Homo sapiens: one gene and its partner. The protein of the gene in region 2 interacts with the protein of the main gene of each other region in a biochemical or structural test. Each region holds a gene or a part of one and is shown on either strand. Other genes may lie near its edges.

What was found.
Region 1: the proteins of NCAM1 (region 2) and SPTB form a complex in vitro, tested with the Homo sapiens proteins (one study listed by BioGRID).

The regions. Positions count from the first base shown.
Region 1 is NC_000014.9:64,796,291-64,800,205, forward strand, and holds part of SPTB (spectrin beta chain, erythrocytic), read right to left. Parts: intron 3,645-3,915; coding exon 3,457-3,644; intron 1,557-3,456; coding exon 1,439-1,556; intron 426-1,438; coding exon 267-425; intron 1-266.
Region 2 is NC_000011.10:113,272,351-113,276,265, reverse strand, and holds part of NCAM1 (neural cell adhesion molecule 1 isoform 2 precursor), read right to left. Parts: intron 3,334-3,915; coding exon of another isoform or gene 2,518-3,333; exon of another isoform or gene 2,365-2,517; intron 1,000-2,364; coding exon 879-999; 3' UTR 1-878.

The DNA of each region.
Region 1 (3,915 bases), on a different chromosome or scaffold from region 2:
CCAGCTGTAGTTGACACTACAGGCCCACATAAGACAACTTCAGCGGCCAGTTCTAGACTCCAAGGCTCTTTCCTAAAAATGAGATTTAATAAATCCTGGAGAGCTCCTCCCCAGATGCAAATCTTGATCCACTGGATCACGGGGGAGCTGTGCTGCAAGGCACGAGGAGAGGCTGTGAGAAGCCAGCTTGGACTCCAGCCCAGCCAAGAGCTGGGGGCTCTGAAGAATGTCCCCTCTCCTGTCACCCAAAGCATGTCCCTCATTACCTGGGCCACGAGGCGCTGGTTTTCACTGAGCCAGGTCTCTCTCATTGCGGCCTTCCGGTCAAAGCGCCGGGCCAGTTGCTCTAGCTTCTCCTGCCGAATGAGCTCATTTCTCAGGGCCAGCTCCCGCCGATACTCAGCTTCCTCCAGGCTTTCCCAGGCCTGCACAAAGGATGGAATGAGAATTCTTGGGGCACAGGAGAAATGCCTCACTTTGGGGGCTCCACCCCTTTCACCCAACACTGAGTGATTTCTGGAATCAAGGTACAGCCTGATGCTCTTGGGTGACGTGGTAGCAGATTAAAGATCAATAAAAGCCTTTGGCTTTCATGTCTGGGCCCATCAAAGATTCAGAGGGCACTGCTCATGAGTCTCACTTCCCTCTTCCCCTAAACCTGCCTCAGACTCTTGGCCCAAAATAATGTTTTTCACCTCTCTGGATGCTCAGTAAGTTCTTATTGACTAATGGCTACCTCCGTTCAATATGAACTGCCAGGTGGTGGTAAGCCTCCAAGCCTCTGAAATGTCATAGGCATTTCCCTTTGGTTATAAGTAGTTAATATTCCATCTTCAAAGACAAACTCAAGGTTCTACAGAGGATAGGCTACAAAACTGGCTCCAAAAAAATGGACTCGGAGGCTGGGTGTGATGGCTCACACGTGTAATCTCAGCACTTTGGGAGGCCAAGGTGGGAGGATTGTTTGAGCCCAGTACAAAACCAGCCTAGGCAACATTGCCAGACTCTGTCTCTATAAAAAATGTAACATTTAGCCAGGTGTGGTGGTGCATGCCTGTAGTCCCAGCTACTGAGACTGAGGTGGGAGGATCACTTGAGCCCAGGAGGACGAGGCTGCAGTGAGCTGTGATTGTGCCAATGCACTACCACCTGGGTGACAGAGTGAGACCCTGTCTCCAAAAAAAAAAAAAAAAAAAAAAAAAAAAAAAAAAAGGACTCAGGGATGCAGGGCATCTGAACAGGGGGATTGAAGGAGGGTGGGGGAGTAGAGTCTGACCCCTCAGAACCAGGTTCGATAACTCCCCCAAATAGTCAACATGTGGATTAATAACATCAAAGAAAGTGGCTTGGTTTAATCTGGTCCAATGACCATTCACTGTGTCCTTATCGGGAATTCAATCAATCTACTGTCAATGCATAACGGAAAATGCTGTGGTACCCTGTTGATGTCAGACACTAGTTTCCCATCGTGGGGTGTGTACACTTTCTGATTGTTGGCTCTCATCCGGGACTGGATGGTAAAAAGTAGAACTTCCAGATTCCCCTTCTCTTGAAACCTGTCAAGAAAACAGAAGTAGGAAGACTGATGTTAAGATCTCATGGCCAAATTTTTTTGCTAAAGTCAACACGGAACTGTGGCATCTTGAAGCGTAGATAGCAAAGCATATTTCCCTTAAAAACACAGAAAAACTAAAGAGAATCTGTAGGTCTGCTTACCTGTTAAAACATCTATCCTTTTCACCAACTGAGATCTATTAGGGGTTTGGGTCTTTACAATATAAACCAGAGAAAACACAATGGCCACCACAGCATTTATCATTTGCCTCTACATGGGAAGCTGAGGTATTCTGGTAATTCCTGTAAATATCAAGTTGTACGGATCAATACAAAAAAAATTTTAAAAAACCTTCTCTGTGCTGCAAGTGATGAGGGCTTCTTACTAGCTCTCTGGTCAGTTCCTTATTAAGTGAGTCAATAAAACCCCAGAAGCAGCATATTCCGTGGGAGAGCATCCTGCACTGAAAACAGCTTTCACCCAGGTCCTAATGAGCCAGATCTCCTGACAAGTCCTACAGGCCAGATGCTTCCCAGAAGGCAGGAAAGGCTGGGCTCTGAGAGGCTTGTAGGTGTAGGAGACAAGAATTGTCAGCAGGATCGGTGTCTAGCATATGGGGTACAGGCTCCAGGTATCAGGTACTTCCACATTTCTGCATGTACCTAAGTGTCCACCCATTTCTGCATCCTTGACCTGGCAGTCAAGGATCAGCTATATGCAAGGTCCCCACCCTGAGCCCAGCCTAATGGATCTCAGTGCTCACAGGCACTTAAGAGAACTGTGACCGTGAAGCACTGTCTACACAGCCAAGAGATAACACCTCTGTGTGCAGTGACTGGTAGACTCATAGAGGATGCTAACTGTATTGGATTTAGGGCTTCAGAAATGGGTTACTGTCAGACTAGAAACCAGATACTTGTTTATAGTATATCCTAGACTCAGCATTTCACCTTTCCCCATTTGAAAGTCATGAATGCAGAGTGTGGGAGATGGGGGGAAGAGCAGAGCAGAAGGTACCATCAATGAGCTAGAAGCCTATTTCAGAGGATCTGGACAAGCTAATGGCAGATAAGCTGGAATGCCCCGTGTGTATGTGTGTATGTGTGCATGTTTGTGTGTGCATGTGCACATGCATGGTTGTATATATGTATGTGCATTTGTACATGTGGTTGTATGTGCATATATATGTGCATGGGTGCATAGTTATGTGTGCACACATAAATGCATGTATAGTTAGGTGTATGTGTATGAGTGCACGGTTGTGTGTGTATGTTTGTGTGTGCATGCATGTTCATGGGTGCACAGTTGTGTGTATGCATGGTTATGTGTATGCAGGTATGCATGTGTGTGCACGGTTGTTTGCATGCACATGTGTGTAAGCATATGCACACAGGCTCTGCACACACTAGGGTGGGGCAGAGGTCCTGAGAAGCAGGCTAAGTGGTCTGTTGCTGAGCAGTGACAGATGGGAGAGAAAAAGAAGGATGAACTTGACAATCCATAAGGCCCCATGCAGAGAGCTCAGGGGCTGAGAGCACAGAGGTCATCAGAAAACAAGCCCACAGCTCAGTGGCAGACCAGAGAGGAGCTTTCCAGCCTGGGTTCTTCAAAGAGACTCAGAAGCCTATGATTTCCCTCCTGTTCCTCCTCAGGGATATCTGGGAGAAGCCACTGTCTTTGGTCGTGAGTCGAGGTTTCTCATCAATGCTGGTTTCTCTAAGCTGATGGCTTGGGAGAAGAGTGGTGAAGAGGGGCACAAGGCAGGTGACACACATACAGCTCTCTAATCTTGAGGGTGTGCCTTGTGGACACACTTCATAAGGCCCAGAACCTGGCTCTACCTTTTGGTGGTCAGTTTCCCAGCCACTGAGGACCACCCTCCCATGTGCCAGGGCCCTTACTTGGGCGGCTTCTCCACGGTGCGGTAGGTGCTGAAGGCCTGCAGCTGCTGCTGGACGCCCGTCAGCGAGTTGGCAAACTTGCGGCTGTTCAGGACAGTGATGGTCTGCTCGATCCAGGTGAGCAGGTCCGAGGCTAGCCCGCTGTACTTTTCAATCATCTTCTCAGTCTCAATGGCATGGTCAATAACCTAAGGAATCATCTTCTTACTTATTCTCATCAGAAGGGCAATGCCACCACTGAGGATATCAATGAGGACCACAATCAAGGTGCCACGAAATGGGGCTCCCACCTCCTAAGCCCTGGAGTGCTCTAGGCTGGGTTTGTTCCCTGAGCCCAAGTGTGCTGGTAGGGCAGAAGGAGTAGACTGGAATTGGGTGAGGCCCTCCTCTTGCCAATCGGCAGCGAGCTGGCCTGTTAAGGGTTGGGTGCAGTTCCCCTCCCCAGTGCTAGAGAAGATT
Region 2 (3,915 bases):
AAACAATCATGTTTTGTAAAGTTGTCCTGTGCTAAAGCAAGCGTGGGATGATCCTACCTACCTCTAGGTGGTATTTGTTACCTTAAAAAATAAAAGGCAGCTATTTTACACGGACATTTAAACACAACCAAAGTCAAACATTTGTCACCTTGTAAACACTGGAAAACAAAGTTGGCAGAAAGAAAGAAAGAAAAAAGAATGTAAAAGAAAGAAAAAGAAGTCTGAATACTGCAAATTGAGATCTACCCCCAGAAGCTGCAATTTGGCATTCGTCCTATAAAATAAGAGTCTACGTGGGAATTGAATTCAGCTAGAAAGGGTGACACACTTTGCATACTGAACAAATACAAAGTGAACAGAAATTATAACTTATTTATGAGGTTTTACAGAGTTCAAACTTGACTGAAAGTATAAAAATAAACTGTGGACTTTGTTCATTCGATTAGTCTTAGTGCCTGAAAGTATTTCTCTGAAACTGGTCTGTGCCAATCGGGTAACACCAAGTGTGGTCTTCCTGAACCTAGATTTCGTTTCTGAGCTTCCTAGATTCTTAATTTGGGGTCCTTTTGTTTGATTTTTTAACGGTTTCAGGGAACGGAGTGTCCTAGTTTGGCTGTGGGTTTAACCTTTTTGTCTCATTTTCTTACAAGTGAGTGTGCAACAAAGGGACCCTTTCTATAAACCTACAAAAAGGAGATTCCCATGTTTTATCTGTTTAGTTTTTTTTAAAGGCAAAAGACACTAGAGAAATGAGATGTGTGTGTGTGCATGTGTGTTTGTGTGTGTGCGTGCGTGTGTGTGTCTGTGGTGTTGGAAATGCTCTGGTGAAGCTGCTGTGTCACTTTTTATTTTGATCTTTGCTCGGTTCTCTTCACCCATCATGCTTTGCTCTCGTTCTCCTTTGTCTGTGTGGCGTCATTGGGGACCGTCTTGACTTCGGCTGGCGCTGGCTTCGTTTCTGTCTCCTGGCACTCTGGCTTTGCTTCTACGGGGCCCTTCCTGCAGAGAATCAGGAAAACAGAACCACTGAGACCACGGTCTGCAGACATCTCGCCCCTGCATCCAGGCCTTGGGGACAGCAGGGAGGAGGAGGGGTTCTCCAGTGACAGCACCCGGCTCCAACCTCTGCCCGTCAAATCACCTGGGAGCACTAAAAATCACCCAAGCCCGAGCTGTGTTCGCGGAAATCCTGATTTAATTGGTCCGGACACAGTGACTTTTAAAAGCACCCAAGTGACTCTAATGTGCAGCCATAGTTGAGAAGCACTGAGTCAGAAGAACGAGTCCTTTCCTCTTCCAGCCCTAAGTTGATGCCAGAGGCTGTGTTTTTACCTGGGGTGGTGGAAGGGGGCAGCAGAGGCAGCTCCTCCTCACCCTGACCAGCTGCAGTGGCAACAGCTCAGCTGGATGTAAATGCAGCCTGCTGGGCTGGGCTGGGCTCCCAGCACTGATTTCAGGGGCCCCTTTGCAACCCACTCTTGCCTGTCCCTTCCCCACCCCACCCTGTGCTGTTGCAGGATGATGCCTCTAGGGCCTGCCTGGGTAGGGTGAGAAAACACTGATGGAGGCAGCTTTTCATGGCAGCCTGGTGGGGTACTAGAGTGGGCCTGGTGGCTATGCGAGAGTTGAGGGCAGCTGAGTGGGCAGGGCTATCAGAGTCCTTTTCCCTCCCGATGCTGAGATTCAGGGCTCCTGGCGAGAGCCCCTTGCAGCCCATGGTGGCAGCATGGCAGCTTATCTGGGGAGCAGCCATAGGAGCCTCTATAAAAATCTAGGTCTGACTCTGCCTCCATCAGTTCCAGGAAAGGGAGTCGGGTCTGAGGATGCATGGGGACAGGCACAGACCCCAGCCTCAGCTGGTGCCACTGAATTTTGGCAAGACACTTACAAACCTGAAAGGTTAAGGCCTTTCTCTTGAACTTTGAGACCCAGCAGCCATTTGATGCTGGGGAGCCCCGAGTCTTCCCAGCCACTCTAAGAGCAGGAGAAGCAAGAGTGGGCTGGGGGCCGGGGTTGGGAGGGGAGGGTGAGCATCTGAGCCACAGTGTGAGGGGACCTCTGAACTGCACCCTCCCCTGCCACGGGCCTGGGGCCTACCTCTTTTCTTCCTGCACATCAGTGCCTTTCTGGTAGGGACTCAGCCTGGCACTGAATAACACACCGACTGGGGGCCCCAGGGTGGCTGATAAGGGCACCTTGGCCTTCTTAGCCTGCTTCCCAAGCTATTCTCATCAGTGGCCTGACTGCAAGGGCTCCCCCAGGGAAAACAGAAGCCGCTGCTAGGATGATAAGGATAAAACATAATTAACATGGCCTAATTAGCCAGCAGGCGGCTGCTCCTGGGGCCCAGCTGCCTGTCCTGCTCTCTCTGCCTTATCCCAGCCCCTTGGTTGACGGTCGCCTCAGAGAAGCCCTGGATGAGGCTGAAGACACATCTAACAAGGAGGACACAGCACAGCACAAATGCACACCACCACAGGACACAACCCGATGACAGCAGACAAAGAGAGGCCGTACTCGGTCTTTGCTGGCGCAGGCGAAACAGAGCTGTCTGCAGTGGAAGGAGCAAGCTCAGGGGCTTGTCCACTGGCCCCAGCGGCGGGAGCAGGAGAGCCCAGGGCTGCAAAAACATCCTTTGCAAGGTCAATATCTGGGGTCTTGAAGTTCCCTTCGTCCATTTTAAAGTCCTCGCCCTGGGAAGGGTTTGTGGTGCTGACGGAGGCAGCCTCGCTCTTCGGGCTAGCAAGGGCTGTGGCTGCCTCGGCCGGGCTCTTCGCGGCTCCGGGCTGGGTGGGCTCCGGGTCCGGGCCTTTGGTGCTGGGAGCCTCCTGCTTGGCCTGAGGGGCTTCTGTGGCAGGGGCAGCCGCTGCTGCTAGAGGACTGGCTGCCCCAGTCGGGGTGGGGACTGGTGCAGGGGTGGGCTTGCTGGCCGGAGGAGCCTTAGAGGCCTCCCCGACACCAGCAGGGGCGCTTGGGCTGAGGACAGCCCCTTGGTTAGCCAGGACACTAGAAGACAAATTGCTAGCGGCAGGGGTTGAGGTCGGGGTGTCGCTCAGGTCAACGAGGGGGGCGACCTTGGGGGCTGAAGCTGGGGCCGGGGAGGGGGCAGAGGCGCTGGGCCCCTTGGAAGGGGTGGCCTGGCCAGCCGGTACAGAGTTTGAGTCAGGCGTGGCCGTGGCCGGCGGGGCAATACTGGAGGTCAGGGTGGTGGTCTCACTGGTGGGGCTGTTCTGAGCAGTGGCAAAGGTTTCGGTGATAGTGTCAGAGTTAGTGGTGACGGTGGTGACAGAAGGCAGCATGTCCTCGACAGTGGCCGTAGTGTCGGCAGGCAGCCTGTGGGAGGACAGGAAGTAGAAGAGAATAGACAATGAAGCTGAGACGTGACAGAGAAGCGAGGAGGAGGGCTGAAGCCCAGGACAGGGACCATGGGGGTGGGGGCATGCAGTTAGGCACAGGCACGGACACAGGCCCACAGAGAGAGAAGGATGCTGAGAGGAAGCACACGCCCAGGTGGGCAGAAGAGGACACAGGAGACGACAGAGAACGTGGCGGTCTCAAAAGGGACCTGCTAGCCCTTCCCTGCTGATGTCTCTCCAGCTCTCTGCATAGAGCTCCCTTTCCCTGAAGTCCTTGCAGACCTGCCTAGGGCTTCCTGATCCCTGCCCTGGATCTCCATTCAAGGAGGGGCAGGCTTCTGTTCAGCATCCACCTGCTCTAGGCTTCCCAGGTCCCAGAGGAACTGGGCCCAGCTGTCCTGCAGGGCTCCCCAGGGCACCGATGGGAAAAGTCACGAATAAGGCAGATCACGAGTACTCAGAATGGCTCATAGGAGCTGTGGGTTCTTCCAGTCACAGATTTTGTGGTTCCCTGAAACTCCATTCCCTTTAAGCCCATAAGATCCTTGACAGCTAGGCA